Homo sapiens: one gene and its partner. The protein of the gene in region 2 purifies or fractionates together with the protein of the main gene of each other region. This does not show direct contact. Each region holds a gene or a part of one and is shown on either strand. Other genes may lie near its edges. The genes, in order: INTU and APMAP.

Region 1 (3,822 bases), on a different chromosome or scaffold from region 2:
CAATACATATAGATAATCCCCACTCCAGGAGATGAAGTTTAATCCCTCCTCCCCTTGAGTATAGACTTAGTGACTATACTCTTCCAGAGAACAGAGTATGGAAAGAGAAAGATAGTAACTTTCCAGGGAAGAGACCTGGCAGACACTACCTTACATAACCAAGTGATCAAGGTAATGAAAAACAGGAAAGGACTAAGATATTGTTACAGACCAGAGGAGACTAAGCAGACAATACAATATTCTGGATTGAATCCTGGAATAGAAAAAGAACATTAATGGAAGAGTGGTGAAAGCCAAATAAAGTTTGGAGTTTAGTTAACAGAAATGACCAATATTCATGTCTTGTTTTGACAAATGCATAATAGTTGTGTAAGATGTTAACATCAGGGGAAAGTGGGTGAAGGATTTATGGGAAGTCTGTACTATCTTTGGAACTCTTGTGTAAATCTAAACTTACTCAAAAATAAAAAGAAAATTAATGGAAGGAATTAAATCTAGCAGTTTTAATTCAGATCTTTGTAGTACATGGGTCATATTTCAGCACTAATATAAATACGCCTTCAAAATTTTCTAAGACCTTATAGTACAAGCTGCATAATTATTGTGTAAATGTTTTTCAATTTTCTTTCAATGAGTCTTATTTTGTTTATTCTGCTTTGCTTTAAGCAGAATAAGTGTATGTTTATAGCCTGCCAGCAACGTTTTAGGGCATTTTAATTGGTATTCAAGGCCCTAAATGATGTGGTAAACAGGAGTAGAGCCCTTCTTCCCAAAGAAAGACTTGTTAATTTGCAAATAAGCAAGTTCACTTGCATAAGCTGTAACATAAATATATTAAAGAAAATGAACTTCAGATAATGCTAATAATTGTCTCATTCCTGACGTATTCAAAAATATCTAGGTCAACACTACATCTTTTAATACCCCTCTAATAGTTATTTGAATCTCTCAGGTCTTTATTTGCATTAATGCCAGCATTTTTCATCATTTGCAATAGTACAGCAATTTCCTTAACTACCACAAGAAAGGAGTTATAAAACAGCCAGCCCCACTGGCACATTTCCTTAGTTAAGGAAAATAAACACTTGCTACTATTCCAAATCTGTTATAGTATACTTTTTTCTTTTTTTCTTAGTGGGCAAAGCACAATGCACTTTACCGAAGTGGTCAACACATATAGTTATGTGGTGCTAATAGGTATAACAGGACAATTCTAGGAACAGAGAAAAACCACACACAATAAAAACACTGTGACAAATTAATATGGATTCTATCCGGCACTTATTCAGTAAGCACTTGCCTGCCTATGCTTTTCTGTGTTTTCTTTTCTGTGTTCTGTCTACCAACAATATCTGATTTTCACTCTTGATGGTCTTCTGATCATTTACTAAAGGAACACCATGAATTTCAATCATTAACATGTATGCTGGATGATATAGCAGCTTAGGGGTAGGGAGTCTCAGATGAGCTGAAGCTCTTCTTGCTAAGCAACATTAGAATAACTGTTAAGCATGTCAAAGAAGGCAAAGGGATCAGTCAATAAATGCATAACTGTTCATTCACTGCAGGTAATACATTTCTACATCAGGAACACATCTAATAGTGACTTCATTCCCCGGGTCACATTTCCTACCACCTGCCCCCTCAGCTAAACAGGGCATTCCTATGCATCACTAAATTAGTGATACAATCTAACCCTGGCAGGACAAAAGTCATACATCAACAAAACATTTTCTGATAGGACTTTACTGTACTTTTAAAGATGTCAGATGGGACAGAGAATCAAATGGCTGAAATGCAAGTGCCAACACTCAGGAATAAAGACTGCTATAGGACTAGAGTACAGGATGGAGAGATAGTCTAAGAGAGACCAGAAAAGATTCTAGGAGAAGGTAGAACTTAAGTGGGACCTTGAATGATTTTGACAAGTAGAGATAGGAAGAAAGGGTATTTCAAACAGAGACAACAAAGTACATAAAGGTGTAGGTGTGAAAGCAAGTGGTCAATTTGAGAATAAGTGGATAATCATTTTCAATAATGAACAGGGAGATCAATAGAAATGAGACAAGAAAGACTTGGGACAGATCTAAAATTTAAAAATCATCCTAAGGAACCTAGAATTTATTTGGAAGGCCACCAAACTTTTGAGTAGAGTAGAAAAATGATTTAGAACTGTGTTTTAGAAAGCAAACTGGCAGTGGTATGGAAGAAAGACCACAGACAGGAGAAATCAGAAGCATGCAGATTAGTTAGGAGGCAACTCCACTGGTGCATGGGAAACAGGCAAGAGGCAAGAGGCAACCTTTTAAGTAAGGCAGTGCCTGTGAGAATGGAGAAGAGAAAACCAGAGAAGGAAGTCAATAGTACTGGAGACATCAGATCTGAAGACAAGAGTAAGGAGATAATGATGTCAGTAAATGAGATGGGTAGCCTTAGAGGAGAAATGGAAGACAATGAATTATCTTCACACACTGAGCTGGAAGTAGAGATGACAGCAGGGTAATACCATTTTTCATCATAAACCTAGTTATATACCATGTGCCTTTTTAATCTGTATTAAATTAAAAGTAAAAAGGAGTCAGGGTTCAGAGCAGAAGAAAAAGTAGGAAATATTATCCTAAATTGGATGTTAACAGTATGGCATCATGAGTCTAAATGAAATATTTTGATTCTTCACAACTAGTATGTTCCCATGTTAAAAATTCAAGAAAGAGAGGAAAGTCAGCATTTCTACACATCATTGAGTTGGGGATATGATGTAACTCTGGCAGAACAAAAATCACAGACCAGCAAAATATTTTGTGTTAGGGCTTTGCTGTACAGATTTTTTTTTTTTTTTTTTTGAGATGGTGTGTCTCACTTTGTCACCCAGGCTGCAATGCAATGGTGCGATCTCGGCTCACTGCAACCTCCGCCTTCTGTGTTCAAGTGATTCTCTTGGCTCAGCCTCCCGAGTAGCTGGAATTACAGGTGGACACCACCATGCCCGGCTAATTTTTTGTATCTTTAGTAGAGATGGGGTTTCACCATATTGGCCAGGCTGGTCTCGAACTCGTGACCTCAGGTGATCTGCCCGCCTCGGCCTTCCAAAGTGCTGGGATTACAGGTGTGAGCCCAGCTCAGAATAGGTCTTTAGTGTACAATGGTGATAGGGCTTCACTGTACCAAAAAAAAGAACTTTTTTTTTCTTCAGACAAAATTTTGCTGTCACCCAGACTGGGGTGCAATGGTGTGATCACAGCTCACTGCAACCTTGAAACCCTGAGCTTAAGTGATCCTCCCGCCTCAGCCTCCCAAGTTGCAGGACTATAGGCACATACCATCATGCCTGGCTAATTTTTTTATTTTTTATTTTAGAGATGGGGGTCTCACTATGTTTCCGAGGCTGGTTTCTGACTCCTGGTGTCAAGCAATGCTCCTGCGTTGGCTCCCAAAAGCAGGATTACAGGTATGAGCCACCATACCTAGCCGAGAGATGAACTATTAATGGGGGCAACAACATGGATGAATCTCAAAGTAATTATGCTGAATAAAAGAAGGCAGACAAAAAAGAACATTCATACTGCACAATTCCATCTTTATGAAACTTTAGAAACTACAAACTCCTATAGAGTGACAAAAAGCAGATAAATGGTTATCAGGAGAGGCATAAATGGACTTAAGTAGGTACATGGGGAGACTCTTAGGCGAGATGGATATGTTCATTTTCTTGACAGACGTATACATGTTAAAACATCAAATTGTACATTAAAAATATGTGCAGTTTTTTGTATATAAATTATCCTTCAATGAAGCTATTTTTAAAGTCCCAGAAAAAAATTT
Region 2 (3,822 bases):
GCAATAAGCCCCTGTGGTGAGCACCCCACAGTGAACACCCTGCAATAACACCCTGCAATAAGCACCTGCAGTGAGCACTCCACTTGAACACCCTGCAGTAAGCACCTGCAGTGAGTACCTCACAGTGAACACCCTGCAATAAGCACCTGCAGTGAGCACCCCACAGTGAACACCTTGCAATAAGCACCTGCAATGAGCACCCCACAGTGAACACCCTGCAATAACCACCTGCAGTGAGCACCCCACAGTGAACACCCTACAATAAGCACCTGCAGTGAGCACTCTACACAAACACCCTGCAGTAAGCACCTGTAGTGAGCACCCCACAGTGAACACCCTGCAGTAAGCACCTGCAGTGAGCACCCTGCAATAAGCACCTGCAGTGAGTACCCCACAGTGAACACCCTGCAATAAGCACCTGCAGTGAGCACCTCACAGTGAACACCCTGCAATAAGCAACTGTAGTGAGCACCCTGCAATAAGCACCTGCAGTGAACACCCCACAGTGAACACCCTGCAGTAAGCACCTACAGTAAGCACCCTGCAGTGAGCACCCCACAATGAACACCTTGCAATAAGCACCTGCAGTGAGCACCTGCAGGGCAGTTGTAGCTCTAATGCCATGGTCTTGTCTTGTTCTGTACAGCATGATGTATGGGAAGGGATGGATGAGATGCTTGGATACTGAGAACAGCACATGTAGAATCCGGGACCAGCTACCAATCCCCATCTGTTTGTTTTTCTAGAAACCCGAGATGATGAGCCTGTGTGTGGGAGACCCCTGGGTATCCGTGCAGGGCCCAATGGGACTCTCTTTGTGGCCGATGCATACAAGGGACTATTTGAAGTAAATCCCTGGAAACGTATGTGACAATATCTCGTTTCCTTCTATGAAGATTTTAGATCTTTTAAACAATATATGTATGTGTAGACTTAATAGGATTTGTTAGCAACAGTCTACTAAAGACTCTGATATTTCTTATTCACTGAACAGTACTGAAAACATTGCCTGCAAAAGTCAGCTAGTTTTAAACACCAGAAAACTCCCTACCCATGATTCCATTTGGTCCGTATCCTAATTTCCTCCTAGTATTTATATTTTAGCCACAGGGTCTCAAAAGGACTTATTTTGAGGAAGTTAGACCTCTTTCTGTCTTGATTTTTCTGTGTGTCTCTCTGCGTCTTGTCTATTTGTTTTCTCTCTTTCTTCTCTGTGGCCCTCCCCTTTGTCTCTTCCTTTCTGTTTTCTCCTGTAGTTCCTCCTCTTCTCTCCCCTGATTGCTCATGAGTCCCCTTGATCAGGCTGTAATACGTGCTGTGTGTCTCAGTGGAGGTTCCTGCTGGGGAGGAGTCCGTTGTCTTGTGCGTGGGGGCCCGAACATAGGCCCTGCAGCCCAGCTGCTTGGGGGCATTCCACTCTGCTGGCCACCAGCTGTGACTGCAGGTCCCTTAGTTGCTCTCTGCCCAGCTTCCTCATCAAATTGGGGTCATAGTAGCCCTGCCTGTGGGATTGTTGCGAGGGTTTAAAGGCGATCACACCTCGAGAGTGCTTAGCACTCAATCCATGTTCTTTCTATTATTTTTCAAAACTTACTACTACTTTTCTTTTCTAAAAGGAGATGAGTAGAATGTCATATTTCTCTCAAATAGAACTAACAAATAGAACTGAAGCCTGCCTAACACTTGCAGTAGATGTTATCAAGTCAGTTGGCCTTAGTAAAAGAAGGAATTCCTCATCCTTATAGAAAAGATTCTGCCTTTAATGAAATTAGTCTAAAAAAATCATTTAACACCTAATACTGTTTTTACTATAAGAAGGAATAAATCTTCTGACAAATGACATGGAGAAGTTTCAGTTTTTCTTTTTAAATCAGTTAGGTTGGTTAATATTTTGCAATTATTGAGAAGTTCCTAGTTCAAGTCAATCTTTTTCTTTCTTTTTAAACTTCAGGTGAAGTGAAACTGCTGCTGTCCTCCGAGACACCCATTGAGGGGAAGAACATGTCCTTTGTGAATGATCTTACAGTCACTCAGGATGGGAGGAAGATTTATTTCACCGATTCTAGCAGCAAATGGCAAAGACGAGACTACCTGCTTCTGGTGATGGAGGGCACAGATGACGGGCGGTGAGGCCTTGCTCCAGGTCTCCCATTTGTTGAGTTCACCAGCCAGGCCAGTTGCTTCAGCAGAGCCTGTTACTTCTAGGGACCAAGGGAGTATTTCCAGCATCATATTTCAGCTTCTAGGACAGGACCTTAGTGGCTTCTGGAGGCAGGTGATGGATGTCACAAAATGGAACAAGGTGCTTTCGTTTTCTCTGAGGAAATAAAACAGGCCAGTCCGTCTGAGGGTGCAAGTCTAGGCAGTCGAGAGAGACCCCGGAGGCAGGCCTGGGCTTTGGGTTGCCTCTCTGAGGGGTATTCCTGTCCAGCTCCCAGGTGAGCAAGATAACTGACCTTGGGGTTCCCTGGAGGGGACACTGGATCTGCTGTGGATGGGGAAGGGCCCCCAGGGGCCAGCCTCGAATCAAGTTTGAGCAGGGCACCCAGGGCCTGTTGCTCCGGGGTGAGGCGGAGTCACCTTCTTCAGGCCCATACCCTGAAGGCCCAGAGTGGGAGCCAGGGATTCTCCCCCATAACCCTCTGCTTTTGGTGTTCCACAGCCTGCTGGAGTATGATACTGTGACCAGGGAAGTAAAAGTTTTATTGGACCAGCTGCGGTTCCCGAATGGAGTCCAGCTGTCTCCTGCAGAAGACTTTGTCCTGGTGGCAGAAACAACCATGGCCAGGATACGAAGGTGTGTGTGGGATTAGCTGAGCCATCAGTTACTGGCCAGAGCGCATCATGGCCGGGGTGGGGTGGGCATGGAAATGGGATCGACAGAAATCAGAGGCAGCAGCGCACCTTCTGCATGGCATGTTAAAGAAAATTCAAGGGTGCGCTTTCTTTCTCCCATTGCGAGTCGCAGTCCGGAAGAGTGTCTTAAGGCTGACTGGTGCAGCCCGGGCCCCATTCCCCTGCTGGCAGGGCCTTGGTCCTCCCCTGACCTACTTCCCCTCTGTTCATACTGGGCCCTGTGCACAAAGGTTTCTTCTCAGCAGCTGAGCCTTTGTTCATGATGGTCATAGAGCACTTTCCATATATATATTTGGACCAAGACCAGTTTGGTGCTTGGCTAAAATTTTTTTTCTGAAATTGAGGGGCTATGGTTCACTCTCTGCTTGGGTGAATTTTTCAGAGTCTACGTTTCTGGCCTGATGAAGGGCGGGGCTGATCTGTTTGTGGAGAACATGCCTGGATTTCCAGACAACATCCGGCCCAGCAGCTCTGGGGGGTACTGGGTGGGCATGTCGACCATCCGCCCTAACCCTGGGTTTTCCATGCTGGATTTCTTATCTGAGAGACCCTGGATTAAAAGGATGATTTTTAAGGTAACTGTGAAAACTGTTATTCCAAGAAAGAAAATGGAAATGAATTGAATCATATTTTTTTGACCCTTATAGCTTAAAAATCTAGTTCTGCTTGTAGTATTTGGCTCTGAATGACACTTAGAAACACATTTCATTCTTCATCCTGAAATGCAGATTTAAACATTTGGACCCTTTGGTTCTTATGGTTTTCCTTTTTCTGGGTGTTTTTATTGTCACCCTCACCATCGTGGCTTTGGGCATCTGCCTGCCTGTCAGTCTCTGGTTCCCTGTTTCTGGGTGTTTTGATTGCCACCCTCACCATCGTGGCTCTGGGCATCTGCGTGCCTGTCAGTCTTGCTCCTCCATCTGCCATGGCTTTGCCAGGCCTTCTGTGCTCTCCACCCCCCTCTCT

What was found.
Region 1: the proteins of APMAP (region 2) and INTU purify together in Homo sapiens (affinity purification with mass spectrometry; one large-scale study listed by BioGRID and IntAct). This does not show direct contact.

What each region holds. Positions count from the first base shown.
Region 1 is NC_000004.12:127,635,635-127,639,456, reverse strand, and holds part of INTU (protein inturned), read right to left. Parts: intron 1-3,822. UniProt on the Homo sapiens protein: Plays a key role in ciliogenesis and embryonic development.
Region 2 is NC_000020.11:24,968,501-24,972,322, reverse strand, and holds part of APMAP (adipocyte plasma membrane-associated protein), read left to right. Parts: intron 1-746; coding exon 747-863; intron 864-1,951; coding exon 1,952-2,126; intron 2,127-2,662; coding exon 2,663-2,797; intron 2,798-3,238; coding exon 3,239-3,431; intron 3,432-3,822. UniProt on the Homo sapiens protein: Exhibits strong arylesterase activity with beta-naphthyl acetate and phenyl acetate. May play a role in adipocyte differentiation.